7 linked regions of the Homo sapiens genome follow. The protein of the gene in region 4 purifies or fractionates together with the protein of the main gene of each other region. This does not show direct contact. Each region holds a gene or a part of one and is shown on either strand. Other genes may lie near its edges.

Region 1 (4,715 bases), on a different chromosome or scaffold from region 4:
TGAGCTGAGATCGTGCCACTGCACTCCAGCCTTGGTGACAGAGCGAGACTCTCAAAAAAAAAAGTCAGATCCAGGCATGAGCTGGATATGATCACCCTAATCCAGAGTTGGGGGCCCAGGGAGGGAGTTTCAGCCTGGAGGTGACAGAAAAGTCTTCTTGAGCCAACTCTAGACCGGTGTGGTGGGGGGTGACAAAGAGAGGTGATGGGGTCTGTGGTTTGTAATCCATAGGCCTGAGCTTCTCAAACTAGGAGTGATGGGAGGATAGGACTCTTGGGATAAACAGAGGACTGAAAATTTAGGGAAAGTAGGGGACATTTTTATTAAAATGAACATGGCCTATATGCAAAAATTTTAAAGATTTAACCCGAGCCTTCAAAGAAAGTGATCCTGTAGGGGCGAGTCTCTTCTAGCCAAGCTCCCCAAAGCCCAGAAATGAGGGACTAGGTCTGAGCCCTTCAGCCCTTCAGAGTATTTTGGTAAGACAGTCTAAGAACCACTGCCTTGGGCCATAGGGAGCCATAGCAGGTTCTAGGCAGAAAGAGGGCAGGCGTATTTGTTAGAAAGTTTCTCTGACCCCGTGTTGGGGTCAGAACCAGAGGGAGAAAGGCTGGGGACAGGGATGGGCGGAGGGATCCACGCGCAGAGAATGAGATTGCTTAACTCCAGATCATGGTGAGGCTGCACCTCTGAAACTGGAATGTGTGTATTTCTGGAAAACATTTGGAGTCTTCAGTTTCCCAAAAGCTGCCATTGATCTCCCTAGAGTACTGGGGACCCCAATAAGCCCAAAACAGCTGGTCCTCAGGACGAGGGAAAGATGTGAAAATCCCACTATCAGGTAGCATGGATGGCGTGGTGCATGCTATCGCAACCCCTGTTCTACAGATAAGGAAACTGATGCCCAGAGAGAGACGGAGGACTCTTGTGAATATTGGGGGGGACCGCCCCTGCACCTCGGGGACGTGACCCCCCCCCCAGGCTGACCCGTTCCTCGCTCTGTCGTCCCCAGGTGGAGGAGGAGCTGACGCACCTCCAGAAGAAACTAAAAGGGACAGAGGACGAGCTGGATAAATATTCCGAGGACCTGAAGGACGCGCAGGAGAAGCTGGAGCTCACGGAGAAGAAGGCCTCCGACGTACGTGTGCAGGGATGCGGGAGCCCGCGGCGGGGCCAGGCCGGAGCCCCGGGGCCGGGAAGGCGGGGAGAGCCGCAGGGGGAGGAGGAAGAGGAGGAGGAGAAGGCGGCGCCTCCCAGCGCTTTCTCCAAATAAGTCCCGAAAAGGGGCACTTTCCAGCAGCTGTGGCCAGCGGTGCCGACGTCAGGCCCTCCCCCAGCGGTGCTGACGTCGGCGGTCCGGCCGGGTGACCTCATCGCCCCGACGGCAGCCGGCCCGGGGGGCGGGGAGAGGCGGGGGCGGCCCCCGCGCAGGCAAAGGCTTGGGGGGCCGGGGCGCGGCTGTGCAGCTCTCGCCGGAGCCGAGCCCAGCCGAGCGTCCGCCGCTGCCCGTGCGCCTCTGCGCCTCCGCGCCATGGCCGGCCTCAACTCCCTGGAGGCGGTGAAACGCAAGATCCAGGCCCTGCAGCAGCAGGCGGACGAGGCGGAAGACCGCGCGCAGGGCCTGCAGCGGGAGCTGGACGGCGAGCGCGAGCGGCGCGAGAAAGTGAGCGCCCCGGCCTCGGGCCCCGCACCCGCAGCCTCCTCCCCCGCGCGCCCTCCTTTCTTCCCGGCTTCCCGCGCTGCCCGCCCGCGCGCAGTCCTCGGGCCGCCTTTTTACGCCCTCGGACGCCGATCGCCGACCCACATCCCTGCGCCCGCAGCCAGGACCCCCTACTTCCTCCGCCGTCCTCCTTCCTGGGCCTGGGACAGGGGAGGGGGCGCCGCCTCCGGGTCGGGCGGGGCCGGCCAAGCGGGAAATGGGGGGATGGGGCGGAGGGGGTGAGCGATCTCCGGGTGGAGAAGTGGAGCGGCGGGAGGGGGCGTATCGTGCAGGCTCCGACTCCGGGGCTGGCGCCGGGGTCCCGGGCCGAGGGGAACCCGCGACCGGACTTGTGGGGGAGAATGAGGATGAAAACGTGGAGCTTCCATTGTCTAGGGTTTGACCGGCCGACAGGGATTTCGACGGGGGACCGGGGATCTGGGGAGGGGGTCGCACTTTCTCGCCTCTTTCGCGGCTTCCCGGCTTCTGCTTGCTTCCCTGACCGTTCCCAGGGGCGCGGCGGCGACGTGTCTGCTCCAGGCGGCGGGGGGGATGGGGGGTGGAGGAAGTTCAGCCCCAAGCCGCCCGCCTTTCTCCAGCTGATTCCTGCGGGAACCGGGGCGGCGGGACCCTGCCTCTCTCCAGAAGGCCCCGGGAACGCTGGCGCGGGGCCCTGAACCCACGATCGTTTGAGCGCCTGCTGTGCGCCTCCGCCGCGAGTCGCAGGGCCCGAGATAAACAATGGGTCTGAAAAAGGAGGGAGTTTCACCATCCTCTCTGCATCATCCTCCTGGCTGTCCCTCGGGACAGATGGTGGCACCGCCAGGGTCTGGGGACAGATTTGGATTCTGGTCCCATATCATGCCACCCACAGGCTTCATGACTTGGTATTTGCTCTCTAGGAGCTTTTTTCCCATCTGCGAGTAGGACTGATAAGAATCCCGACCCCCCAGAGTAGCAGGGAGGGTCCCAGGAGTAAATCTCAGGCGTGGAGCCTGGCGCTTTGTAAATAATCAATTGTGTTGTTGTTTTTTGTTGTTTTGTTTTTGAGGCAGTCTCACTCTGTCGCCCAGGCTGGAGTGCAGTGGTGCGATCTCGGCTCGCTGCAACCTCCACCCCCCGAGTTCAAGAGATTCTCCTGCTTCAGCCTCCCGAGTAGCTGGGATTACAGGTGCCCGCCACCACGCCCAGCTAATTTTTTTTTTTTTATTTTGGATTTTTAGTAGAGACAGTGTCTCACCATGCTGGCCAGGCTGGTCTCGAACTCCTGACCTCGTGATCTGCCCACCTTGGCCTCCCAAAGTTCTGGGATTACAAGCGTGAGCCACGGCGCCCAGCCTCAATTGTGTTTTCTCTGCCCTGGGAAGAGCTCATAGACAAATGGAGGCAGGGGAGCTGACTCACTGATGGAGCGAGGTCTGCATTCCACGGGTTTTCTGTGCAGTTATGGGAGCATGACAGGGGAGGCTCCAAAATGGAGGTTGAGCTGGGTCTTATAGAATAAATAAGTTTGCTGGGACCAGAGACATGGGTGTGCACAGACTCAGAGGCAAGAAAGTTGTATGATGAGGGTGGGGGGGTGTGCGGATAGAGGTTGAAGCCCAAAAGCCCTGAAAGTTCAGTGTTGAGGCTCAGGGTGGGGACCCTAGAGAGGCAAAAGATGCCCAGCCAGATGGAATTGGTGGTGTGAATTGCCAGGACTGGAAAGAGCCCAGATGGGGGCTGCAGCATGGGCCTTGGTTGAAGCCTCTAATCCTGTAAGGGCTGCTTTGGCCCAAGAGGCCTTAGAAACCCGGTGTAAGCCTCAATCGGTAGCCGGTCTGGCCTCTTTCTCACACTTAACCGACACAGCTCTTGCTCTGATCTCATCCCAAGTCATCTCGCTGGAGGACAATTAACTCGGCTTCAAAATGGCCCTCAGCCTGGAGCCAAGATTTAGGAGCAAGACCGTCTAGTTGGGAGAGAAGATGTTTTTGGAGAGTTGAAGACTTCTTGAAAAAGTTCGAAAAGTTCTTGAAAAAGCAAAGGATGCTTCTTTCCGTCTGGGAGAGGGAAAACCTCTCCCAGGGCAAAAGGAACTAAGACCAGGGGTGGGTTAAAAAAAAAAAAAAAAAAACCTTTCACTCTTGTAGAATAAGCCAGGAGCCGGCGTGTGGTAGACTTCTGGGCCTGTTTCCCGACAGCTGGTTTCGTTTAGATTTTTGTGTGATTAACTGACATCTTCCTGTTCCTTTGCCACATGTATCTAGCAAGCCTCTTTTACCTTATAAGGGAAATCCTTTGTAGCGTGTGGAAGGCTTTGATTGCAGGAAGGGGTGGAACCCAAAATGACTCGGCCGTGACTAGCAGTTTTTCAAAAATACATATATATGTATGCATGTACAGATATGCGTGTATCTCCCAACTCCAGACAGCTGAAAATCTGCCAAAAGCGTTGTTTGCCAGGATTCAGAATTTCCCACATAAGGGCTACTCACTTCTTAAAAGACAACTCATGAATCAAGCACCTCTGTTTGATCTTTAAAATCAATTCCTCGACTGCTAATGGGTACACAGTTTTTTGTTTGTTTGTTTGTCTTTGGCGGGTTATGAAAATGTCCTGGAATTCGATAATGGTGTTGGTTGCAGAGTGTTTTTGCAACATCAGTTCCTGGCCCAGTTACTGAAGGTGGTAGGAGGAGTTAAGATCTAGGCAATTAAAAAGAATGAAAGGCACCCATTCATGGGAAGGCCTCAGTGACGTTTCTTAAGACAGTTTCATCAGTGGTTTTCACAATTCTCTGCATTTGGTGTTTCAGAGGACACTGCAATACGAAACACCTGTGGGAGTGCCCTCTTTCTGCTTCTAGGAATCTGAGGCTGAGAAACCTTCCTGACTCTATTTGTGTAGTTTTTCGGCCACGTTAGCCTCATTCTATTTTTTTTTCCCCCAGTATGAACTCAGGGCAGGAGAGGGAGTGGTTTCCTAATAATTTTTTTTTTTTGAGACGGAATCTTGCTCTGTTACCCAGGCTGG
Region 2 (4,160 bases), on a different chromosome or scaffold from region 4:
TACACATTCTCAGTTAGGGGCTGGACAGGGGCAGCTGCTAGACAGGCCCTATTCTGGGCCTCTCTGAAAAGAAGAGTCCCTGAAAAGAAAGGGAGCCTCCCGCTTCCGTGGCCCCTTAGCCATGCCAAGGGGCAGCAACCGGCTTTCTGCTGATGCTGATGAGCTGTGGTGTGAACTCACGAAGGTCAGCTGATTCACAGGCCCTGGATCTCTGCTCTCCCTCTGCTAAGTGGGACTCGGGCCAGCCTGCCATGAAGGAGGCGGCTGCTGCAGCTCTCAGGAAGGAACACTGGGCGGCTAACCCCACCGGGCGGCCAACCCCACCGGGTGTCAACCCCACCGGGCGGCCAACCCCACCGGACGGCCAACCCCACCGGGCGTCAACCCCACCGGGCGGCCAACCCCACCTGGCTAGGACCCAGTCCCCGGTAGCTGCTCTCCCGAGAGGCGGGCAGGGCTGGGGCTAGGGGCTGTCCAGGAGTGTTCTGGACTGTCCCGTCGCCACCATTCCCACAGGCTGCTCAGGACCGAGGCTGAGACGGGCGACCAGGACGGGACTGTATGGCTGCAGGAGGCTACACAGCCTCAGGAGGCTGCTTCTAAGAGGCCCACGTCGCCTGCATGGGGACGCGCCTGGCTCTCCAGCATGTGGTCATTTGAATTGTACATGTTTCACTAGGATGCCTACAGAAAAGTATACAGAAGATCTGGAAAAAGTTTTTGAAATGTTGAAAACTTAGCTACTTTTAAAATGAAAAAAATAGCTTTATAATTATCAAAGCAATATATCCCAGTGTAAATTTTAAAATAATTTGCTACATTATAGTAAGCATCTTATCTCTATGTGCCCTATAACATTATGTTGTATAGTTTAAATATATACAATAAAATTTATTTTAAAAAATAGCAGGCAATTAACTCTCATTTTAAAAAGAGTCCGTTTAACTCCCTTCTAATTTCTACCACTCGTTTTCCTTCTGTGTGCGTGTATGTGTGTATGTCATCTTTTTTAAATGGCTCAATGCATTCCGAATATTTTTTCCGTTGTCTTCATGATGTATTCATGGGAAGGGGAGTATGTGGCTTATTGCTGCTAGTTTATCAATAGAGAATGCTGGCCAGATGTCTTTAACAGTAATGATGGTCTCAATAGCAGTAATGACAGCTACCACTTTCGGAGCTCCTCCTGCCTGCCAGGCACCGTCGGGGTCCCTCCCTGCAACTCCTCACGCCATCCTCCTCGTCACTTTCTGAGGTGTGTGTGGTCATCCTCCCATTTGGAGGAGGGCTCGGGAGCACAGGAAGGTCCAATACTTACCCCATGGCCAGGAGAAGATGGGCCAGGGCCAGGCTGTGAACCAAGGCAGAGAAGGGGCTCCAGCACCTTTCCAGAGCCCTTGCCTCCTCCGCCTCTGTCCCAAGGCCACCTGGTGGGTGGACACAGCTAAGCCATGGCTAGAACCCAGCATTCTCATGACTGCTTTAACAATGGAAAATCACAAGTTGCAGGCAACAGGACACACATTTCCTTGTCTACATTAGCACTTGTGATGAAGATAATTCATGCTATTTTTTCCCTATTCAGAAAGTACCTGTCCTTAGAATAGCTAGAGAAGTTTTATGAGGATTGTGTAACTAGCACTAACTTAGGTCACCTAATTCTTGATCAACCAAATCACAGGTCAAACAAAGGGGGCCTATGCCTTCATAGAAAGCATCAATTAATGTCCATTTAAAAACCGATGCAGGCCAGGCGCGGTGGCTCATGCCTGTAATCCCAGCACTTTGGGAGGCCAAGGCGGGTGGATCACAAGATCAGGAGATCCAGACCATCCTGGCTAACATGGTGAAACCCCGTCTCTACTTCTCTACTAAAAATACAAAAATTAGCCGGGTGTGGTGGTGGGCACCTGTAGTCCCAGCTACTTGGCATGTACCCAGGAGGCGGAGCTTGCAGTGAGCCGAGATTGCATCATTGCACTCCAGCCTGGGCAACAGAGCGACTCCATCTCAAAAAAAAAAAAAAAGAAAGAAAAAACTGATTCTGGCTGGGCATGGTGTCTCACGCCTGTAATCCAAGTACTTTGGGAGGTCGAGGTGGGTGGATCACCTGAGGTCAGGAGTTCAAGACCAGCCCGGTCAACATGGTGAAACCCCATCTCTACTAAAAATACAAAAATTAGCTGTGCATGGTAGTGGGTGCCTGTTATCCCAGCTACTTGAGAGGTTGAAGCAGGGAGAATTGCTTGAACCCCGGAGGCAAAGGTTACAGTGAACCAAGATCGTGCCATTGCACCACAGCCTGGGTGACACAGCGAGGGTCTGTCTCAAAAAAAAAAAAAAAAAAAAAAGAAACAAACAAAAAACTGATGCTGCATCTTCCAGTCTAAAATAAAAATACATTGTTAACCATTTTTATGCTTACGAAACTTACAGTTTTATAGTTCTAAAAGTAGTACATGTTCATTACTTTTTATTTATTTCTTTATTCTTTGAGACGGAGACTCACTCTGTCGCCCAGGTTGGAGTGCAGTGGTGCAATCAAGGCTCACTGCAAGCTCCGCCTCCCAGGTTTACGCCATTCTCCTGCCTCAGTCTCCCAAGCAGCTGGGACTACAGGCACCCACCACCACGCCCGGCTAATTTTTTGTATTTTTAGTAGAGACAGGGTTTCACCGTGTTAGCCAGGATGGTCTCGATCTCCTGACCTCGTGATCCACCTGCCTTGGTCTCCCAAAGTGCTGGGATTATAGGCGTGAGCCACCGCGCCCGGCCCATGTTCATTACTTTTTAAAGATCAGTCAATTAAAGCTAATTTTTAAGAAAGAGTTAAGCTTATGTATTCTTCCAATTTCTAACATCTATTTTCTTGTAAGTGTGTCTTATTTCATGGAAATAATGCCTCATTTATTATTTTAGTAAGTTTTGGCAACCTAGTTAACTCAGTTCACTTGTCCGGTGTATCAAATCTTCATTTTACTCTGGGACCAACTGTTAAGACATCTGGAACCAAGGGGTGTGGTAGGGGTTATGGTGCTGTTGTTTGTAGTCAGCTTTGCATTTTTGCTTCTTGATCATTAGATCAGAAACTAGACCTCATCTCATGAGTGCTCACGTATTGATTGGTTATTTGGGTCAGTCAGGGCTGCTGACGTTTGAAATGCATGCAGGGTAGGAATAAAATGGTTGTGATGCATTTGGTTAGCAAATAGCCCACTTTCCCAGGACTGATGAGAGGGACATTTGGAGGCTCATGACAGGCAGCATGATAGAGGGGAGCCAGGCTGGTCTCACTGGCAGGTCTTCAAAGCTCACACTTTCGTGTCTGTGGAAGGCTGGGTTACACGATTTAACAAAAACAAACCTGAAGAGTCCTCTTGTCATTGGTAAGTTCCCAGCCCCAGAAATCATCCGGTATATTTCTCTCTCCATACCTGGGAGACACTTTAGATTCCTCTAGAAGTTTCTTGAATTCTTCTTTGGCTAGCAGCAATTTACTTTTCTTTTCCTTGTATTCTTCTTTTATTCTTGTCTTGACAAACTGTTCAAATATCTTAAAACACAGATACAGAAGAAAAACATCATGAAATTGCATATCAGAAATGAAATCTTGTATTCCAAGCACAACATGAGAAAGCAGCAAGAATCTATGGCAAAAGCTGTTCTTGTTTACAGCTGCTGGAGTTATGAGCAACAGCCTTTCAGCATAGCTCTCAAGGATCCAAGCAGTCTGAATAATTAAACCTGGGTGCCCACACGGCCCGGCATTTCTCTACATGCAGGCGCCATTTCTGGGTCAAACGTGAAGCAGCCCTGCTGGAGAAACCCGGAGAATGACTTGGCTGCCCTCTCTGCAGGCGTCTGGAACCAAGTGGCGGTTTGGAACCCGTGCTGTAGGCTGCAGTGGTCCTCACTGTGCCCTCTGAGCAGCATCTGTAACGCGCGGCCTCCCACTGCCTCATCACGGCCAGTGGCACCAGAACACAGCAGAGCACTTAGTTCGTGCTAGTCACTTCCTAGGGTGACGTAATTGACATTCGAGTCTCCCAAAAATGACCTTAACTTGTGGAAAGAAAGTAAATTCTGCATCTCTGATCCCCACTTGTGAACCTGGGCGTCTGGTGCCTTGGGGAGGACTCAGGGTGCATAAGTGGTCTCTT
Region 3 (4,245 bases), on a different chromosome or scaffold from region 4:
TCACTGCAACCTGTGCCTCCCGGGTTCAAGCGATTCTCCTGCCTCAGCCTCCTGAGTAGCTGGGATCTACACATACCCACCACCATGCCAGGCTAATTTTTGTATTGTTAGTAGAGATGGGGTTTCACCATGTTGCTCAGGTTGGTCTCAAACTCTTGGGCTCAAGTGATCCCATCCTGGCCTAGTCTTTTATTTATTTATTTATTTATTTATTTTTTGAGATGGAGTCTTGTTCCATCACCTGGAGTGCAGCAGTGCCATCTCGGCTCACTGCAACCTCCGCCTCCTGGGTTCAAGTGTTTCTCCTGCCTCAGCCTCCCAAGTAGCTGGGATTACAGGCATGCGCCACCACTCCTGGCTAATTTTTTTTGTATTTTTAGTACAGACGGGGTTTCACCTTATTTGCCATGCTGGTCTCGAACTGATGACCTTGTGATCCACCCACTGTGGCCTCCCAAAGGGCTGGGATTACAGGCATGAGCCACAGTGCCTGGCCTAGTATTTAATTTCGTGTTTACAGGAATGGCAGGCCAGGTGCAAAACTTTGGGTCAGTCTGGTATAGCATCCAATGGAATACAAATAATTATAAGAAATTGACAATGTACCATTCGTAATTGCTTGAATTTGAAACACTTTGATCAACACAGTTCCTTTTTCTTGACTTTTATTATGTAATTCTTCCTCCTACCCAACTATTTACTTTTTATTATTTCATTTGTATGGTTCACGCTTTTTTGTTTTTATTACTGTGTTCTTCTGAGCAGACAGGTGGCATAAACGATTTGCAATGAATAAATAACCCAATTTCCTTTGAGGGTCCTACACTAGGCAAACTGAGGGTGTGATCGTCAAAGAGAAATTTCTCAGTCATGATGGAATGGGGAGGTATTCATTAAGCCAACTGTTTCACATGCCCCTCAGATCTTCATGTGAGAAGTTTTGTTAAACTCACTGGCACCCAAACCAGGGCAACACTGCCCTACCTGGTGGCTCAGTATTAGCATGGCAACTCATCATTGGGACATGTTTTCAGGCAAAATAAGTACCTTTATGTGTCAGGTACCATTGGGAGATGATAAACCAGGGCTGAAAGCGCCTAAGGCTCTTCCACAGAAGCAACGTATGAGAGCTGCTGGCTGTTATCTTTCAAGAGACCAGTTATCCTCTCAGCTACTGTAGCTGTACAGAAGAGTGTTGTAAACCAAACCAAATAGAACATCAAATAAGCCATTTACAAGTGACATTCATTTTCACCCTCAGATGTATCTTATGGCAACATGTGGTTTATGCAGTTTATGGAGTCCTTTCTGCTGGTCCTATTTTTGCTAAGGATCTATCACTTTTGAGTATAATTACAATTAAGAATCCCATTGGGTTCAGTCAAGGCTAGAGTTATTTCACGGCACAAGTTAGAGTTTTAAAAGAACAAATACTAATGCTTACCCTTCTACTATGTCAGAGAAGTTATCCAACACTCGATGTTCTGCTGCAATTGCTTTGTCATCTGGTCGGCCAGCCTTTTCTAGGAAACATAAGGCTGGGTCTGCCCTCATGGTATTATATTTCTCATAGCCTAGAAGAAAAAGGGTCATAGTTGAAGAAAATGAGATTTGTTTTGCCTTTATGCTTACTTTATATGCTGCTGGAATAATTAGAATATGTTCTATATTGCTCATAATGGAAAACAAAGTTAGAATGTTATCTTGGACAACTACTGGGTTTATTACTATATTTAACATTTTTATAGCAATTTAGAATCATGAAGAGTTTTTAACTAGTGACTGATAGCCTTAGGCTCCCAAAGTGTTGGGATTCCAGGTGTAAGCCACCATGCCTTGCCTGCAGTTTTATTTATTTTTATTTATTTATTTATTTTTTGAGATGGAGTCTCACTCTGTCGCCCAGGCTGGAGTGCAGTGGTGCGATCTTGGCTCACTGCAAGCTCTGCCTTCCAGGTTCACGCCATTCTCCTGCCTCAGCCTCCTGAGTAGCTGGGACTACAGGTGCCCACCACCACGCCCAGCTAATTTTTTATATTTTTTAGTAGAGCCGGCGTTTCACCGTGTTAGCCAGGATAGTCTCAATCTCCTGATCTGCACACCTTGGCCACCCAAAGTGCTGGGATTACAGGCATAAGCCACCATGCCCAGCACCTGCAATTTTATTTATCCCATTAAACGTCTCAAAAAAGATGTAGATTAAGTGCCATTACTTTTATTTTATAGAAAAAAAAGTATTCTTTTAAAAAAAAGACATTCTAATTCACAAAGTCACTTGGCTGAAAGTTAACGCTTACTGTTTTTAGTGCCTGGGATTTGGCATTAGGCAAAACTGCTATAAGAGTAAGGAAATATTCTTACCCCCACTGCATTTTTGTTTTGGCTAGTCAGTCTCCCTTCTTATACTCTACTTTTATTTCACTCAAAAACTGCTGCCTCATACCTATATCAGAGAGACTGCTGAACATTTAGACAAATGGGACATGTAGAAAAACAGAAGATTTTCAGCTCTTTCTCTTTAGTGAGGCAGCCAAGCTGACATAGAGATGCAGATCTCTGTAAAGACCCTCACAGGCAAAACCATCACCCTTGAGGTCCAGCCGAGTGACACCAGTGAAAATGTCAAAGCCAAGATCCACGACAAGGAGGGCATCCCACCTGACCAGCAGCATCTGATATTTGTGAACAAACAGTTGGAGGATGGCCGTACTCTTTCAGACTGTAACATCCAGAAAGAGTCCACCCTGCAGGTGGTGCTTTGCCTCTGAGGTGACATTATTGAGCCTTCCCTCTGCCTACTCACCCAGAAATACAACTGCGACAAGATGATCTGCTGCAATTGTTATGCTAGTGCACATCCAGAGGAAAGTCATATAAATTAAGTGTGATTATTATTAACAATAGTTGGGGTATATTACCTGCCCTGATTCATGGGACCCTAACTTACCATAGCATACAGTGCGGTAACACACTGCTAACAGTGATTAGAGAACAGATGGGAGGCTCCCTACCTTGAGATTTACCTATCCATCTGGCCCTTCTTGAACATCTATTTATAGGAACTAACTGCTCTGCTCTGGATATTTAAGAACTACTTTCCTACTCAAATTTATTGAAGATCAATCAGATAACTGAGTTATTTCTCAGGAGCATTTTGCTAAATGTTCCATCCGTGAACATAAATCTTCAGTCGGAAAGGAGTAGAATAGGAGAAGATACGTACCATGTTTAAAGACTCCAATGAGCAGCGACTTGTCAGCCTCACTGTCCCACCAAGTTGTTGGAACCTCCAGTTGATCCACTACTGGGAACCATATGTCAATCTCACTAAAGGTATAAGAGGGCAGAGTCAGCACAGAAATGCAGGAAATTAAAGTGAGAATCCTTGCAAAGGTTATTATAGGTATCTTCCTGTATCCATTAATTTAAATACTCATGCATCTACCCTATTTCCTCCCACTAGTGTCAAGTATAAGATTAAAGACCTGATATATAGATTTAAATTATCAGGTATCCCAAAGATAGCATAAAATGAAATAAGCAAACCAATCTTCCCTCAAATAAGGTAGGGCATAAATCAAAAAAATATAGCAGAATTTTACCTGGCAATCGCACCCCCTAACACCTTTTCTGCTTGGTCTCCAATAACCTCCTGCCTCAGGTAGTATAGCATTCGTACCCGCAACAGTACCCTAGAAAGGACAGAGGAAGAGCTGGCTCAGTAACACTGTAGAAGTTTGAGGTGGAAAATGTCTGCTAATTCTATGCTTACTTGTTACACTGATGTTTCAAGTGCTTCTTATAACTTTCATCTTGGAACAAAGTGTCAGGGTTATATTTCCGGATCCAATCTGCCTTATGGATATCAAAAGTGCTTTGTGACTTTACTTTTTTTCCTTTGCGTCCACGAGGCACAGGGATAGATAGACCTGGGAAAGGGGAGACATCAAAGACTTGGATTGAGAAAAACCCTTGGACCTGAAAAGGATTAGATTAACCTATAGAAAAACATAAAGTAAAGAGTTGATAATTACCTGAATGATTCTGCAATTCTTTTGTCTTGCCATTTTCAGCTGGGCTAATCAAGTCCCAGATGAAGCCTTTAATATTTTCATCCCCACGGTAGTGTAGAAGACAGTACACGAGAATGGCCCGACAAATGGTCTCCACATCTCGTTCAGTCATACGTCGCTTGAAGCGTCCATGAGATAAAATATCTCGCCATCGTCCCCAACTAAAAAACAG
Region 4 (4,245 bases):
TTAAAGTCTTCATAGAAGGTTGCATTTCAGTATGTAGTTTTGGTTTGTTAAGAAATATTAAGAACTATAGTAGCTAGGATGCTATGTCTGTTCTTTAGCTTTAGAACTGCTTAATAGCATTATTGTTGCCATTAAACTCATTCTTTCTGATAGTTTAAAATTTAGTACTCTCAAATTGAGTGTGCCAAACCAAATTCCTAAGCATTTTAATCTCTGATCACAAATTGCTTTGCATTTCTTGGTTTTCTCAGTTAATATGTTGATCTGTTATTTTTGCTTGAGTCATTCAGTTATCTTGTAAAAACCATGTTTGGTTCTCTGTAAATAACTATTGGTAATAAGAACATGTCGTTCTTCAGTACCCTCATCTCCCTACTTGTAACAGGCTGAAAGAAGTCCTAGCTGTAAAATATGTTCTGTAACATAAGAGAATGATATTTTGCATCAATTCTTAGGTGTGTCGTTTGGACTGGTGATGAGCGGGTCTTCTTTTATAATCCCACCACTCGTCTTTCTATGTGGGACCGACCTGATGATCTGATTGGCAGGGCAGATGTTGACAAAATTATTCAGGAGCCCCCTCATAAAAAAGGAATGGAGGAATTGAAGAAACTAAGTAAGTTTTAAATTAGGAATTTATCCACTGATTTTAACATTCTTTTCATATTTTGATAGAAAATGTGGAAGGCATTTAGAAACCCTTTATTTTTCAAAGAATATAAGAAGCATTCGAAAAAAATAGACTGCTATCCTAGTTTGAATGAAATAATAGAGATTAAAAATATGGAGAGAATTTGGATAAGATTGTGCTTTGTAAAATATGTGTGTCTTTAATTTATTGTCCTACTCAAGATTTTCAGTTAGTCCAAGATATGGTTGGTAGTGTTGCTGCTTGCTTAGTGCTTATCAATACTACTAAAATGCTCCTCGGTGGGCCTTTTAGCACCTTTTGTGACTAGTAATATATTTCTTGAAATAATACATTACAAATTTTTTAAAAATACAAAATCTCAATCTTTTGAATTAGATGGTAAGCTCCTTATATTCCTGAGACTAGACACCTAAACCTTACTAAGAGATTATCTTTTAATCTATCTCATATTCAGAGGGCATACTAATATATTGAGTACAGATATTTGTACGTAATTTTTGTTGTGTATTTCTTATTGGTAATTTGCCCTTGTGTTGATATGATTGTGTTTTTATAGAACTGTGGCCCGCAAGTGGTATAGAAGCAAGATAAATGAATTATTTAATGCTTCTAATGAAATAAATCCTAGTGTGTATCATTTATAGTCATTGAGACATTTTCATGCATTATATATATGCTGAATTATAAGTAATTTCTGAGTCAGTGCCGCTTTGCCTATCTAGTGCTGAAGGTACTAGGCTCACCTTCAGCAATACTTGTTTTATAGGTATGATAATAATACTTTATAACTATGGTATTGAATGATGTTGAAACAATATGTGATTTTCTTTTGTTTTTCGTGAATTTGTTTTTAAATATTTGATTCATTCATTTGATAAATACATTAACGTGCATTGTTAAAAGGTACTGTAAATCCTGAATCAAGAAAGCTTTATTTTATATATTTGTAAATTTAAGGTTTGGGCAAGAAACATTTCAAAATGAATTAAATTTAATGTAAAGGGAGGATAAATAGAGGAAGTGTAGAATTATGCTTTGTTTAATGTTTTATAAAGGGATGAATATTAAGAGGTGAATATATTATGTAAACAGTAATTTTTAAAAAGAAAAGTTTGTGAAATATATGCAAATGACTTTGTAACAATATTTGAAATGTTTTTGCCAGGGCACCCAACTCCGACAATGCTGTCGATCCAAAAGTGGCAATTCTCTATGAGTGCAAGTGAGTGAACTAACCATAAATTGCAGCTTCTTTTTAATACTATTAAAGCAAGTGTTCTGGTAGTGATTAGCAGAAGGATTCATTCCTAAATATTTTAATTAAATTTTGTCTTATAGTTAAAGAGGAACAAGAATTAATGGAAGAAATTAATGAAGATGAGCCTGTTAAAGCAAAAAAACGGAAGTAAGTAATACATACGATTTGATTGAGGTAGATTATATCTTTTAAAAGTCGATTTGGTAATAATTTGTGATTGGAAGGGACAGGTAATGTGAATGTTGTTAGGAGGCATGATTGCTCTCTTAGGCCTGATAATAAATAGCTTTGTTTTTCATTGTAGAAAATGTGTCCCTTCTTTTGCTAGATTTGTAGAAGATTTGGGTATTCATATATGTATTATGACTCCAAATGATAGTTTTGGAATTAATTCTTTTTGGAAATTTATTAGGTCTCAATTTTATGAAAAGTTAGTTTCCTCCCTCATTTAGACCCCAATGGATACCATTCCAGAGATCTCATAAAAACAGACACAGACTTCTCCCTCTTTATATGGTTATCTTACGACTTACCTAGTCCTTGAGTCTGGTCATTAACTCCTTGGTGAGGAGAGAACCCATAAGCTTAGGAAGTGCTCTGCGAGAAAGAGACTGCTAAGAAGTAGAGGCATTAGCTTGGCCAGTGCTCTAGAGTTGGGTAAAATGTAAATGTTATGGCGGGGGGAAGGATGGGGTAGAGGGTATGCATGTATGGGGAATGGGACCATTATTTAGCAGCAAAAAGGAAAGTTTGAAGACATTAACAGGAACTGGTTAATTGTAGTCCTTATCTGAAAAGGACAGATTGAATGCAGCCAAATTATGGCAAAGAAATCAGTAGGACAACCCCTATAAAGGGTAGTTCTTTTAAAAAAAATTTCTTTATTGGCAACAACATAAAAGATATGAAAGAATCACTCATAATTTATCAGCGTAACATAGCTATTCTCATTTTTGCAATTGACTTTTTAGTTCTTGACCAAATGTAATTTTTATTAGTTGTGATTAACTGATTTTGTGCTTTTTTTTTAAAAAAAAAAAACCTAGAATAAGACATTTGTTTTGTTAATTATTATAAATGACTGTATTCATTCTGTTTATGTACCATAATTTTGGATGTTCCTACGATGTTAAACTTTTAGGTTGTTTTTAATTGTTTGTTCTTATAGACAACTCTGTAAGGTTTTTAACTGCTTTTATCAGGAGAATGTCAAAGAAGTCCTTTATGTGGATTGCCCGAGCTTCTCTATTTAGGTACAAAGCTAAAAGCCTGTTTTTCCTGGCTTAGTTTTTCTTTTATTTCCTTTATTGAGATAGATAGTGATAGTTTGTATTGTGACATTTTCATTTAGTATAGTTCTATAAAGGTTATTTGTTTTTATTAGTTACTTCTTGGATGTCTTTTAACTCTAACTATTTAAATAGTTTTAAAATTATTATTATAAGAGGGTATATTGTTTGGCAAATTGCTTTTACCTGTTTGTTTTGTGCATATCTTAGGTCACAGACTATCTCGCTAAGTTCCTGCAGGTCACGGACTATGTCTTCTATTTCTTTTGATTCATTGCCTAAGTTGCTAAGTACCTCTCACTTGCATTTGTGGGTTAGCCTTAGTTCCATTTAAATCTCTGGGGCTACCTACAGTTTCCTGTATAGCATGCTTTTGAATTTCCACATGTTCTGTTTTCCTAATTCCCTTAAGTTTGTATAGGGAATAAGAGCCAATTTTTAAAATATACTTAGCAGATCATATTTAAGAAGGAAGATCTGCTAAAATACACCCAGATATTATTGAATTACATACTTTTTTGGATTATTTACGTGAATGGGCCTTTTTCATAGTGCATATATTTGAGAGGTGCCGTGATTCCATGTTTACAATTTCACTTGAGTACCACACAGAAACAGGGTTGCCCTTACACCTGAGGTGCATTTTTGGAGGAACAAGAAGTAGTTTAGTCATTGATGAACAGTTCTAATTCCACCTAACTACTCCTGGGCCCATGTTGCTCTCTGGGACCTGTCCTTCAACTTAAATCTCAACTTATCACCCAGAAAGTGAGTAATAAAAAGTCAGGTAGGTAAGGTATATATCTTACATATTCACTTGGCCAAGATTGCAGATATTTTAGTTTTATTTTTAAAATGAATGTTTGAGATTACTAAAACATTATACCACTTAATACCAATTTTTATTAGATTTTACAAAATATTTTATGTGTTTATAATGTAAAACATTTTGGAAAATACTGTTTTTTCTATATTTCAAGAACTAAAAAAATTATATTTTGTGCTGTTTGATTCTGACACATAGAGGTTTACTGCAGTGTTAAACT
Region 5 (4,245 bases), on a different chromosome or scaffold from region 4:
AAAAAAAAAAAAAAAAAAAAAAAAAAAAAAGACAGGGTCTTTTTTTGAAAGATCACAACTCCTCTTTTTTTTTTCTGAGATGGAGTCTCGCTTCATTGCGCAGCCTGGAGTACAGTGGTGCAATCTCGGCTCACTGCAACCTCTGCCTCCTGGGTTGGGCGATTCTCCTGCCTCAGCCTCATGAGCAGCTGGGATTACAGACGCCTACCACCACGCCCGGCTAATTTTTGTATTTTTAGTATTTTTAGTAGAGACACCTTGTTGGCCAGGCTGGTCTCAAGCTCCTGACCTCAGATGATTCACCCGCCTTGGCCTCCCCAAATGCTGAGATTACAGGCATAAGCCACCGCACCTGGCCAAAAGGAGAAATTTCAGTATAATGAAAGACACTGTAGCTGGGCGTGGTGGCTCACACCTGTAATCCCAGCACTTTGGGAGGCCGAGGTAGGCGGATCACCTGAGGTCAGTAGTTCAAGACAAGCCTGACCAACATGGAAAAACCCCGTCTCTACTAAAAATACAAAATTAGCTGGGCGTGGCAGCACATGCCTGTAATCTCAGCTACTCGGGAGGCTGAGGCAAGAGAATCATTTGAACGCAGGAGGCAGAGGTTGTGGTGAGCTGAGATCATGCCACTGCACTCCAGCCTGGGCAATGAGCGAAACTTTGTCTCAAAACAAACAAACAAAAAACAACAAAGGCCGGGCACGGTGGCTCACACCTGTAATCCCAGCCCTTTGGGAGGCCGAGGCGGGCGGATCACAAGGTCAGGAGATCGAGACCATCCTGGCCAACACGGTGCAAACCCCGTCTCTACTAAAAATACAAAAAATTAGCGGGGCATGGTGGCGGGCGCTTGTAGTCCCAGCTACTCGGGAGGCTGAGGCAGGAGAATGGTGTGAACCCAGGAGGTGGAGCTTGCAGTGAGCCGAGATGGCACCACTGCACTCCAGCCTCAGCAACAGAGTGAAACTGTGTCTCAAAAAAAAAAAAAAAAAAGACTGTAAACAAAGAGGTAACAGGCTGAGACGAAATATCACGGAGAATGAAATACTAGACTATGTTAAAAAAAACTTACAGATCAGGCAAAGAAAAAAAAAGAAAATCCTGTAGAAAAATAGGTAAAAAAATAGGAATTGGCAAGTCATAGAAGAACTAAAATGGCAAACGAACAGAAAAAGATGCTCAACTGCACCAAGAGTCAAGTAAAAATGGAAAGTAAAACAATGTCAATTTTTAAAAATCCATCAGACTGGCAAAGTTAAAAGAAAATTAATCCCATAAAAATTGCAGTGATAGCAGAGAATGGGGAGGAAATTTCCACACATCGCCGGGAATGTACATCTGAGTTTCCCATCTGGCACGCACTCTGGCCATGGCTCATGATGCTTCAGCAATATGCTATTTTGTCCTAGAGGTGAACTCATGCTTACTTGGCTGTCCCAGAGGAATGCATGTGTGCAGAGAAGCATGTGCAGGGACCCCCCCTACACCACTGAGGGGCAAAGAGGTTGAGATAGTGGCAGGCTCTGTGGCTCATGCCTGTGATCCTAGCACGGTGGGTGGCCAAAGCGAGAGAAATGCTTGAGACCAGGAGGTCGAGACCAGCCCTGGCAACACAGTGAGACCCAGTCTCTACTAAAAATAAAATTAGGGAGGCTGAGATGGGCAGATCATCTGAGGTCAGGAGTTCAAGACCAGCCTGGCCAATATGGTGAAACCCCGTCTCTACTAAAAACACAAAAAATTAGCTGGGAGTGGTGGCAGGCACCTGTAATCCCAGCTACTCGGGAGGCTGAGGTAGAAGAATTGCTTGAACCCGGGAGACAAAGGTTAGAGTGAGCCGAGAGATAGCGCCACTGCTCTCCAGCATGGGTGACAGAGCAATACTCCGTCTCTAAATAAATAAATAATTTTTGTAAAAAAAGAGAGAAACCATATCATTGCATTATGAAGTATTATGCGGCAGTGAAAATACATGATGTGGATCTCTGGCTGTCACAATATGATGTGTAGGTACAACAATGTCACATTGTGCACCTTCAGGATACACAATTGCCATCAAATGTCTCAACATACAAATAAAAGGACAGGCCAGGTGCAGGGACTCACACCTGTAATCCAAGTGCTTTGAGAGGCCGAGGTTTGGAGGATCATTTGAAGCCAGGTCGTCGAGACCAGCCTGGGCAACATAGCAAAACCCAGTCTCTACAAAAAAAAATTAAAAAATTAGGCCGGGCACGGTGGCTCACGCCTATAATCCCGGCACTTCGGGAGGCTGAGGCGGGCGGATCACCTGAGGTCAGGAGTTCAAGACCAGCCTAGCCAACATGGTAAAACCCCGTCTATACTAAAAATACAAAAATTAGCCAGGTGTGGTAGCATGTGCCTGTAATCCCAGCTACCTGGGAGGCTGACACAGAAGAATCACTGGAACCCGGGAGGTGGACGTTGCAGTGAGCTGAGATCGCACCACTGTACTGCAGCCTGGGTGACAGAGTGAGACTCCATCTCAAAAAAAATAAAAATAAAAAATTAGCCAGGCATGGTGGCACATGCCTGTAGTCCCAGCTACTCGGGAAGGCTGAGGTGACAGGATCACCAGACCCTGAGAGGTCAAGGCTGTGGTGAGCTTTGATTGTGCAACTGCACTACAGCCTGGGTGACAGTGAGACCCTGCCTCAAAAAATAAATAAAGGCCAGATACATTAAAAAGAATGAAATACATCTAAATGTGGCAACATGGCACAAATCTGAGATAGCTAAGTACACATGTGTATAAATACAGTGAGTGGAGCAGGGAAAGGCACTGAAGGACCCCTAACATTGGAGATGGGCTCCCTCTGGGTAAAGGGGAAGGAGGGCTGTGGTTTCCATGCACAGATGGTGGCTCAGAAGGTCTGAGATGCCAGGTGACCGACGCCAGGCAGGGAAAGTAAACCTTTGTGAATTGTACTGTTGTTTTACAGCTAAACGTGCTCCCTCCTTAAGCCTAAGTTTCCCAAGGGTAAAAACATGGTGAATTTCTCTTACGCCTAACACAAAATTATTCATGAAGTAACCTCTGAAAACAGCACTGTTTAATCAGACATGCCACTTTTTACCTCTTTGGGACAAAGCGAAGGACAAAATATTGAGCCTCAAGACTTAACCAGAAATGGAAGTGCCCTAGGTCACTGGAGGCTCCCTCCCTCCTAATGAGAGAAGCTGGCTGGGGAGAGACCCTTTCACTTTCAGAAAGGAAAAGTCTAGCAGAGCTGAAACCCAAAAGCAAAGGCAGCCGGCTGCTCACCTTGGGGGCCTGTGGAGTCTTTGGTTTCTGGAAGAACCTCGTGATTTCGGCCTTCTCTGCTTTAATGCGCTGTGATGTTAAGAGATGGTGATGAGAAAGAGGAGAGGAAGAGGAACAGTATGTGTTGCAAAACATGCAAAGGCCCCCAGAACCGAACGTCAAGCATTTTAGCTTGAAGGCACTACTGTGATTTTCAGCTCTCAAAACCCACGGACCCGCAACTGAGCCAGCCAATCTCAAAATGTCCAAGTTGCCCTTGTGGGTAGAAGTGCCAGGATTGCAGGGCCAGTAGGCATGTGACAGCCAGCACTGGGAAGAAGCAACAAGAACGCATCTAGACAGACTCGCCCTCCCTGCGGGCGCCATTTGGTTTCCCCAAACCAAGAGAATATTAGGTGACGGCTGTGGCAAGAATTCCACTTTGGGCATCTGCTTCTCCAACGGGCTGGGACGGGGAAGCTCTGTGGGAAACACTCTACCTTCTCTTCTTCTCTTAACCGTTTCTCTTCTTCCTTTTTCCTTTTTTCCTCAAGTTTAGCCCTGTGAGACAGCAAATGACATTTCAGCCGACTCTTTGCTTTGGCTCTGGAAGGGACCGCAGCACTCAACTGTTAGTATATGGCAAGTATTTCATTTTACATTAAATGAATATAAGTTATTTTCATGTCTAGTATAAGGCTTTTACATAGGTCTTCACAATAAAAATGGAAAACAGTCAATAAAATTCTTCCTGTGACTAGAATATATATAAAAAACTTTAGCCAGTCAGAGCACAATTAGCACAGACAAAACCCACAATCCTGCAATGCAAATGCCTAAGTTGGTTGGGAACTGGAAGGATGGTCACAGCAGAGACAAGGGGTCCAGGGTGAGTTGGACGTGGGGGAGCACTAAAGAGCAGGGAGCTGCTTTCCACCGCTCCCACGTCAGGGCCCCACGGGCACCTCACGAAG
Region 6 (4,245 bases), on a different chromosome or scaffold from region 4:
AGACCCTGTCAAAACAACAAAAAAATATATATAAAACTTAGCCAGGTGTGGTGGTGCACTTGCAGTACTAGCTAGTAGGGAGGGTGAGATGGGAGGATCACTTAAACTCGGGAGTTCGAGGCTCCAGCAAACTATGATCACCCTACTGCACTCCAGCCTAGGGTGACAGAGCGAGACCCTGTCTCAAAAAAAGCAAAGACAAGACTAATGTTGGTTTTGAATTAAGACATTCAAACTCAAGGCTCCACAGGGCAGAAAGCATTCCCAAGGAAAGGTACACCTTCCTGGGCTCACAAAATACTCCTACGGACAGTAACAGAGACAATGGTGAGGCCAACTCCCTGACCAAGGTGTGTTAATTCCAAGACAGAAACAGGAGAAGAGAGGGATGATTTCTAAGACTTCATAGAATGGAAATATGAGGTAGTACACATAGGCCCATCCAATTTTAGCTTCACAAATAAGTGTCTTTCATAGTGTTAAAAAAAAAAAGGGGGGGGGGGCATAAAATGATGCAGCCGCCATGGAAAAGTTAGGTAGTCACTCAAAATTAAACACAGAATTACTATGACCCAGCAATTCCACTGCTAGGTATACACCCAAAAGAATTAAAAGCAGGGACTCATACACATATGCCAATGTTCATAGCAGCACTACTCACACAAGCCAAAAGGTAGAAACAACCAAGTGTCTACCAATAGATGAATGGAATAAACAAAACACGGACTATCCATGCAATGGGATATTATTCAGCCACAAAAAGGAAGGAAATCCTGACAAAGGCTACAACATGCATGAACCTTGAGGGCATTATGCTCAGTGAAATAAGCCAGTCACTGAAGGCCAAATATTGTATGATTCCACTTATTAAATACCTATAATAAGCAAATCCATACACAGAAAGTAGAACAGAGGTTACCTGGGCCTAGGGGGAGGTAGAAATGGGAAGTTATTAAATACTGAGCATAGAATTTCATGTGGGATGAGAATAAAAGTTCCAGGAATGTGCAGATTGCTGCAAAACATCATACTTCACTGCACACTTAAGATGGTTAAAATGGTCTATTTTATGTATATTTTAACCACTTTTTAAAAATCCAGAAAGGTGGAAAAGAAACCACTCCCTACACAATCCTACTACTTTGAAGCTGGGAAACTTGGGTCTGAGCAACCCTGGGAGGTGGAAGACAGCATGCAGACAATCCCACCTTTGGCAAAGAAGGGTGGCTGCTTTTCTGGCACGGCCTTCCCATTGCACTCTTTACCTTTGTGTGCTAGGTGCCACCACACTGTTAACACTAACCATCTCTAGGTAGCAGCCATCAGGCTTGGAAGCCCGGGCACTGGCTGACAGGGCGCTTTCCTCAGCTGCCAGCTCAAGCGCAACCCCTCTGACTACAGGGAGGCACAGATTAGAGCTGATCAGGAACAAGTGAGGAGCCAGAAGCCACCTCAAGTTTCTTAAGCAACTGAGCCTTGCACCTTCTGCTTCCCCAGCCCTGTGTGTCCCGCCAGTGAGAATCCAGTGACTCCCAGACCACGGGCTCTACTACAGAATTTGTAATCCATGACAAAACCGGAAAAAAAACCAAAAAGCCAAGACTACAGTATTAATGATTTATAAAAGTATCTTTAACTGAAGAGCCGATCTTTATTCTGGGATGTAACTTTCTTCCGTGGAAGAAACACCAGATAGTAGCTGGAGAAGCTACTATTTTAAAATGTTATTTAGTTGAGGCCAGGTGTGGTAACTCCCATCTGTAATCCCAGCACTTTGGGAGGCTCAGGCAGGTGTATCACTTGAGGTCAGGAGTTCAAGACCAGCCTGGCCAACATGCTGAAACTCCATCTCTACTAAAAATACAAAAATTAGCTGGGCGTGGTGGCACATGCCTGCAATCCCACCTCTCAGGAGGCTGAGGCAGGAGAATCGCTTGAACCCGGGGGGCGGAGGTTGCAGTGAGCTGAGACCGCACCACTGCACTCCAGCCTGAGTGACATAATGAGACTCTGTCTCCAAACAAACAAACAAAAGTATTCACTTGAGACCAGGTATGGTGGCTCACACCTATAATCCCAGCACTTTGGGAGGTCAAGGCAGGAGAATCTTACTTAAACCCAAGAGTTCGACAAATAAGACCCTGTCTTTATTTTTAAAAATAATAATAATTATCTGAGTGTGGTGTTGTGCACCTGTAGTCCCAGCTACTCAGGAGGCTGAGCTGAGAGGATGGCTCCAGTCCAGGAGGTCAAGATTGCAGTGAACTATGATTGCACCACTGCACTCCAGCCTGGTTGACAAAGCAAGACCCTGTCTCAAAAATAGTAACGTATTTACTTGGAAAAATTTTAAAGTCAGCAACTTTGTGTAGTCCCCAAACACAAGAGTGCCAAGTGGTATCCCAGCAGAGGTATCACTGGTGTGAGCCACACCCAAATCAACACAAGGTAAAACCAAGGAAAGCAGCTTCCTCTGTGATCTCTCAACTATACCAATACACAATCAACAGGCTTCCCTTCCCACGGGCTGGCAGATAAGGTGATGTTATGGCAGCTCCAATCCCTAGATGCCTAGAACGCAATCTACCTGAGTCCACAAGACTGGCTTCACACCACAAAGCAGGTCCCACAGGAGACCTACAACTGTTACCCAGGCCACTTGTCTACTCCAAAAGAAAGTCCTTCACCAAAGTCTGCCAAACAAAATCTATCTGCCAAATCATCTCCTACTCTTTCCTGGAAAATGACGACGACTGTGTTAGAAAAAATCATAAAACATAACAGAATCTACACATCATGGTCCACCAGAGGATTCACAGATGGAAATGAATTTTAATATTGTTACTTTTGAAGTCCCAAATACTTTAAGATTTACAATAAAAAACATTCTGACAGAGTCCATGATGAATTATTTCCAGTCTTTCACCAGACTGCTTAAGCTCACCTATAAACTACGAAATGTATAAATAAATAATTACAGCCAAAGCAGGTAACAAAGTGTCTAACCTATATTCCACAGGTGCATACCATGGCTACGAATAAACTATCCAATCTAACCACAGAAGCTGAGCATTTGGTTTGGGGTTAATCCACATCACATGACTCACCATTGAGAAAGCGGCTCTCACCATGCTTAATGGGCACAGCACCTCTGCAAACAAATCCTTCCCTGGCTAATCATTCCCTCTGAGAGGTTTCCTCAGTAAAGAGATTAGAACTATCTCTTGTCATTTCCAACTTTTAAAAAATTGACCTTTTTGGAAATCTACCACCACCAACTAATTCTTGACAGACTTGTAGAGAATGACCCTCAAAGAAATATCATTCGAGACACATATTCAAGCAGACTGGCCATGGTGGCTCATGCCTGCAGTCCCAGCAGTTTGGGAGGCTGAGGTGAGCTGAGTGCTTGAATCCAGGAGTCTTGAGACCAGCCTGGGTAACATGGCAAAACCGTGTCCCTACAAAAAAAATACAAAAAATTAGCCAGGTATGTTGGTGCACAACTGCGGTCCCAGCTATGCAGAAAGAAGACAGTCTGGCTCCAGGAGGTCAAGGGTACAGTAAGCCATGATTGCACCACTACACTCCAGCCGGGGGTAACAGCGGGAGACCCTGTCTCGGCAAGGGAAGGGGAAGGGGAAGGGGAGGGACATATTCAAGTTTAGATGATGTGATAGTATAAAAGTGATGTCCTGAAAAGCTCTTTTTTTAACATGTCCAATCCTATTTTCTCACTATCTTCAGGACAAAATTAGGGGAAGATTCTTCTCTAGTCCATGTATATGTATACGTACATATAAAAACTTAACTCTGCAAGTCTTTTTAACTTTTGGCTGGGCGCGGTGGCTCACACCTGTAATCCCAACACCTTGGGGGGCCGAGGCGGGCAGATCACCTGAGGTCAGGAGTTCAAGACCAGCCTGGCCAACATGGTGGAAACCTGTCTCTAATAAACATACAAAAATTAGGCCAGGCACGGTGGCTCACGTCTGTAATCCCAGCACTTTGGGAGGCCGAGGCAGGTGGATTATCTTAGGTCAGGAGTTTGAGACCAGCCTGGCCAACATGGTGAAACCCCGTCTCTACTAAAAATACAAAAATTAGCTGGGCGTGGTGGCAGGCGCCTGTAATCCCAGCTACTCGGGAGGCTGAGGCAGGAAAATTGCTTGAACACAGGAGGCGGGGGTTGCAGTGAGCCGAGATTATGCCATTGCACTCCAGCCTGGGCGACAAGAGTGAAAC
Region 7 (4,245 bases), on a different chromosome or scaffold from region 4:
ACTTTAAGAAGCCATTAGAAAGTTGAGAGCAGAGGTAATGTGATCTCACCTTTCAGAAGGATCTGAGAAGGTTATGTGGATGATATACTGTAGAGGGGCAAGGGAGGAAGCAAGACCAGTTAGGCTATTGCAATAACCCAGCCTAGAGATGACTGGTAGCTCAGTTTGGGGCAGTAGCAGTGCAGGTAGTAATTAGTGGATGAATTCTGGGTATATTTTAAAGTGAGAAACAACAGGATTTGCTGATATACTGTGTTGAAGTGTAAGAGAAAGAAGAGTCAAAAATGACTGGACTAGGCAACCCAAAGAAGGAAGCTGTAATTCACTGAGATGGGGGAAAAGCAGGAAAAGCAGGTGTTGAGGGGAGAAGTCAGGAGTTAGGTTTGGGGGCATATTAAATTTGCAATGCCTATTAGTCACTGTTGATGTTGAAAAGGTTGCTAGAGAGTCTTGTCTGAAACATAATTCCTTGTTATAAAGCTTTCAGTAGCGCCAGGTGTGGTGGCTCACGCCTGTAATCCCAGCTCTCAGGGAGGCAGAAGCAGGAGGATAGCTTGAGCACAGGAGTTCAAGACCTGACTGGGCAATATAGCGAGACCCCATGTTCCACAAAAAGGGAGGAGAAAAAAAAAAGTGTAACAAAGCTTTCAGTAGCTTCTCATCCCCTAAGGATCAACTTCAAATCTCTAGCAATGACAGGTAAGACCCTTCTTGTTCTGGGCTCTGTATCTCTGACCATTCCCCATCATACCTACACTATCTTCATCCTTAATGAAACATTCTACAATTCTCTTTATTCCTTTGTATATGCCCTTCCTTCTGCCTAGAAGGCTCTTCTCAGGCCTCAACTACCTAATTTCTCATCAAGACAGCAGCTCAGTTGTCACCTCCTCTATGAAGTATGAACCCTTCCCCAACACCATCAGGTCACCAGGGCACATCTTTTTTTTAAGAGATAGAGTCTCACTCTGTCGCCCAGGCTGAAGTGCAGTGGCGCAGCTCTCTATAACCTTGAATTCCTGGGCTCAAGCCATCCTCCTTCCTCAGCCTCCTAAGTAAACAGGACCACAGGTGCATGCTACCATGCCTGGTTATTATTTTTTCTTCCTGGTAGAAACAGGCTTTTGTTATATCTCCCAGCCTGACCTCGAACCCCTGCGCTCAAGTGATCCTCCTGCCTTGGCCTCTCAAAATGCTAGGATTACAGGAGTGAGCCATCATGCCTAGACAATGAGCTTCTGCCATCCAAGCTCTAACAAATTTTATCCCATATCTATTATTACAGCACATATCACCCTGCCTTCTAACTATTTATTTTACATATGACGCATCCCCTCTAGACTGTTAACACCTTGAGTACAAAAAGGTGCCCTAGTCAGGATTTTTGCTGATTCCTCCTCTTTGCCCTCTAATGTTTCTTTCCATTACAACAATTGTGTTAGAAGGATAAATGAGCTAACAGATCCACAAACATTTTGGTTTATTGATGCTAGTTTGGACCATGCTAAAGGAAGACATGATAGGCAGGTACCATGCCCAAAATGCTTGCAAGCTTGCTGGCCAAATGCACTATCTTTTATCCACAACTAATAGTCCTGCCCATATCATCAGTCATTGTCCTCTATGCACTTGTCTCCCCAAATTGACCCCAGTTCTTCTCTCTTATATTAACAGAAAATGCAAAGCAAACTCTTATTTTAAAAAACAATTCTTGTGGCTGGGTGCGGTGGCTCACACCTGTAATCCCAGCACTTTGGGAGGCCAAGGCAGGCAGATCACCTGAGGTTGAGAGTTTGAGACCAGCCTAACCAACATAGAGAAACCTCGTCTCTATTAAAAATACAAAATTAGCCGGGCACATGGTGGCGCATGCCCGTAATCCCAGTTACTCGGGAGGCTGAAGCAGGAGAATCGCTTGAACCTGGGAGACAGAGGTTGCAGTGAGCTGGGATCGTGCCATCACACTCCAGCCTGGACAACAAGAGCAAAATCCTATCTCAAAAAAAAAAAAAAAAAAAAAAAAGGAAAGAATTCCTGCCTACTTTTTGAGTCTTTAAAACATGTTTTATCTAATTTAAGCCAAACTTTTCTGTTTTTTTGGAGATAGAGTATCGCTCTGTCGCCAGGCTGGAGTGCAGTGGCGCGATCTCAGCTCACTGCCATGTCTGCCTCCTAGGTTCAAGTGATTTTCCTGCCTCAGCCTCCCAAGTAGCTGGGACTACAGGCACACGCTGGCTAATTTTTTGTATTTTAGTATTTTTGTATTTCAGTAGCGCCAGGTGTGGTGGCTCACGCCTGTAATCCCAGCTCTCAGGGAGGCAGAAGCAGGAGGATAGCTTGAGCCTGGTCTCAAACTCCTGAGCTCAGGCAATCTGCCCTCCTCGGCCTCCCAAAGTGCTAGGATTACAGGCATTAGTCACCGCGCCCAGCCTAAGCCAAATATTTTTTAATAAACAAAATATAAAATATTCTTAAATAAGAATGACAACAGGCTGGGCACAGTGGCTCATGCCTGTAATCCCAGCATGTTAGGAGGCCGAGGCAGGCGGATCACGAGGTCAGGAGTTCAAGACCAGCTGGCCAGCATGGTGAAACCCCATCTCTACTAAACATACAAGAAGTTAGCCAGGCGTGGTGGCATGTGCCTGTAGTCCCAGCTACTCGGGAGGCTGAGGCAGGAGAATTGCTTGAATTCTAAAGGCGGAGGTTGCAGTGAGCCGAGATTGCACCATTGTACTCCAGCCTGGGCAACAGAGCTGTCTCAAAAAAAAAAAAAATAATAATAATAACAACATATATGACTTCTTACAAGATACACTTCCTACACATGATTAATTATAGCTTCCCATTTTAATTCATTAATCTTCCCTCCTGATCAGTTCCACCCATAATGTTCCCCAGGATGAGTACAGTGTATTGCCCATACCGCTTTCTCTAACCCAACTTAATTATTTCACAGCATTTTCACAGTCTGAAATTATCTTGTTTAAATCAACCAGGGGAGGGACCCTGTCTGTCAGGTTTACTGTTGTATGACATAGCCTGAAATAATGCTAAAAAAAAACAGTATGAGGCCAGGCACGGTGGCTCAAGCCTGTACTCCCAGCACTTTGGGAGGCCGAGGTGGGCAGATTGCGAGGTCAGGGGTTCAAGACCAGCCTGGCCAAGATCGTGAAACCCTGTCTCTACTAAAAATACAAAAATTAGCCAGGCGTGGTGGCAGGTGCTGTAATCCCCACTATTCAGGAGGCTGAAGCAGGAGAATCGTTTGAACCTGGAAGGTGGAGGTTGCAGTGAGCTGAGTTCCGCCACTGCACTCCGGCCTAGGCAACAGAGCGAGACTCCGTCAAAAAAAAAAAAAAAAATTACTTGAGAGAAATGTTTGTGAAAATACTATAGTGAGGCCGAGCATGGTGGCTCATGCCTATAATCTCAGCACTTTGGGAGGCTGAGGCAGGAGGACTGCTTGAGTCCAGACGTTCAAGACCAGCCTGGTCAACACAGCAAGATCCCAACTCTACGAAATAAAAAAATCAGCTAGCATGGTGGCATGTACCTGTGGTCCCAGCTACTCTCAGGAGACTGAGGTGGGAGTATCCCTTAAGCCTAGGAGGTCATGGCTAAAGGAAGCCATGTTTGAACTACTGCACTCCAGCCTGGGTGATACAGTGAGACTCTATCTCAAAACAAACATAAACCATAGTGCTTGGTATTCATTCAGTATGTATTGGCATTCATTATGTGCCTGACACTGAAGACAGAATAATTGTGGCATGTTATATTTTCCAAAGATGGCTGAGACAGCATCTTCCATTCCATATGCTCTTCTACATTCTCTCATTGAGAAGTAGAGCCCACTTCTTGAATCTGGTATGACCAGTTATTCACTGCTTGACTTCTGAGGCTAGTCAGAAAAGGCAATTGGCTCTACATTGTGCTGGAACACAAGCTTTTGGAGCCCTGAGCTTCTATGTAAGAAGTCCGACTACCTGGAGACACCAGGCTGTGAGAAAGCCCAGGCCATACAGATAGACCACATGCAAGCACTCTAGTCCACTGCCCCAGCTAAAGGCCCAACAGATGGCCAGAATCAACAGCCAGACATGTGCATAAAGATGCCTAGAGATGACCAGGTTCCAGTTATTGAGACTTTCCAGCGGGGATGCCAGACATCATGGAACAGACATAAGCCATTCCCACTGTGCCCTATCCAAATTCCAAAGCAAAAGAATCTATGCGCATAAT

What was found.
Region 1: the proteins of TCERG1 (region 4) and TPM4 purify together in Homo sapiens (affinity purification with mass spectrometry, with the first as the bait; one study listed by BioGRID). This does not show direct contact.
Region 2: the proteins of TCERG1 (region 4) and TCERG1L fractionate together in Homo sapiens (co-fractionation; one large-scale study listed by BioGRID). This does not show direct contact.
Region 3: the proteins of TCERG1 (region 4) and CHD8 purify together in Homo sapiens (affinity purification with mass spectrometry, with the first as the bait; one study listed by BioGRID). This does not show direct contact.
Region 5: the proteins of TCERG1 (region 4) and CHAF1A purify together in Homo sapiens (affinity purification with mass spectrometry, with the first as the bait; one study listed by BioGRID). This does not show direct contact.
Region 6: the proteins of TCERG1 (region 4) and HNRNPM purify together in Homo sapiens (affinity purification with mass spectrometry; 2 studies listed by BioGRID, with this or other methods). This does not show direct contact.
Region 7: the proteins of TCERG1 (region 4) and POLD3 purify together in Homo sapiens (tandem affinity purification; one large-scale study listed by IntAct). This does not show direct contact.

What each region holds. Positions count from the first base shown.
Region 1 is NC_000019.10:16,075,035-16,079,749, forward strand, and holds the start of TPM4 (tropomyosin alpha-4 chain), read left to right. Parts: upstream 1-1,460; 5' UTR 1,461-1,531; coding exon 1,532-1,663; intron 1,664-1,981; exon of another isoform or gene 1,982-2,096; intron 2,097-4,715. UniProt on the Homo sapiens protein: Binds to actin filaments in muscle and non-muscle cells. Plays a central role, in association with the troponin complex, in the calcium dependent regulation of vertebrate striated muscle contraction.
Region 2 is NC_000010.11:131,094,872-131,099,031, forward strand, and holds part of TCERG1L (transcription elongation regulator 1-like protein), read right to left. Parts: intron 3,554-4,160; coding exon 3,435-3,553; intron 907-3,434; exon of another isoform or gene 517-906; intron 429-516; exon of another isoform or gene 347-428; intron 1-346.
Region 3 is NC_000014.9:21,396,379-21,400,623, forward strand, and holds part of CHD8 (chromodomain-helicase-DNA-binding protein 8), read right to left. Parts: intron 4,235-4,245; coding exon 4,035-4,234; intron 3,930-4,034; coding exon 3,773-3,929; intron 3,693-3,772; coding exon 3,603-3,692; intron 3,328-3,602; coding exon 3,224-3,327; intron 1,575-3,223; coding exon 1,445-1,574; intron 1,024-1,444; exon of another isoform or gene 915-1,023; intron 1-914. UniProt on the Homo sapiens protein: ATP-dependent chromatin-remodeling factor, it slides nucleosomes along DNA; nucleosome sliding requires ATP. Acts as a transcription repressor by remodeling chromatin structure and recruiting histone H1 to target genes.
Region 4 is NC_000005.10:146,478,038-146,482,282, forward strand, and holds part of TCERG1 (transcription elongation regulator 1), read left to right. Parts: intron 1-455; coding exon 456-616; intron 617-1,817; coding exon 1,818-1,874; intron 1,875-1,990; coding exon 1,991-2,057; exon of another isoform or gene 2,058-3,112; coding exon 3,113-3,163; exon of another isoform or gene 3,164-3,409; coding exon of another isoform or gene 3,410-3,533; exon of another isoform or gene 3,534-4,245. UniProt on the Homo sapiens protein: Transcription factor that binds RNA polymerase II and inhibits the elongation of transcripts from target promoters. Regulates transcription elongation in a TATA box-dependent manner.
Region 5 is NC_000019.10:4,422,922-4,427,166, reverse strand, and holds part of CHAF1A (chromatin assembly factor 1 subunit A), read right to left. Parts: intron 3,833-4,245; coding exon 3,772-3,832; intron 3,362-3,771; coding exon 3,293-3,361; intron 1-3,292. UniProt on the Homo sapiens protein: Acts as a component of the histone chaperone complex chromatin assembly factor 1 (CAF-1), which assembles histone octamers onto DNA during replication and repair.
Region 6 is NC_000019.10:8,450,932-8,455,176, reverse strand, and holds part of HNRNPM (heterogeneous nuclear ribonucleoprotein M), read right to left. Parts: intron 1-4,245. UniProt on the Homo sapiens protein: Pre-mRNA binding protein in vivo, binds avidly to poly(G) and poly(U) RNA homopolymers in vitro. Involved in splicing.
Region 7 is NC_000011.10:74,598,489-74,602,733, reverse strand, and holds part of POLD3 (DNA polymerase delta subunit 3), read right to left. Parts: intron 1-4,245. UniProt on the Homo sapiens protein: Accessory component of both the DNA polymerase delta complex and the DNA polymerase zeta complex.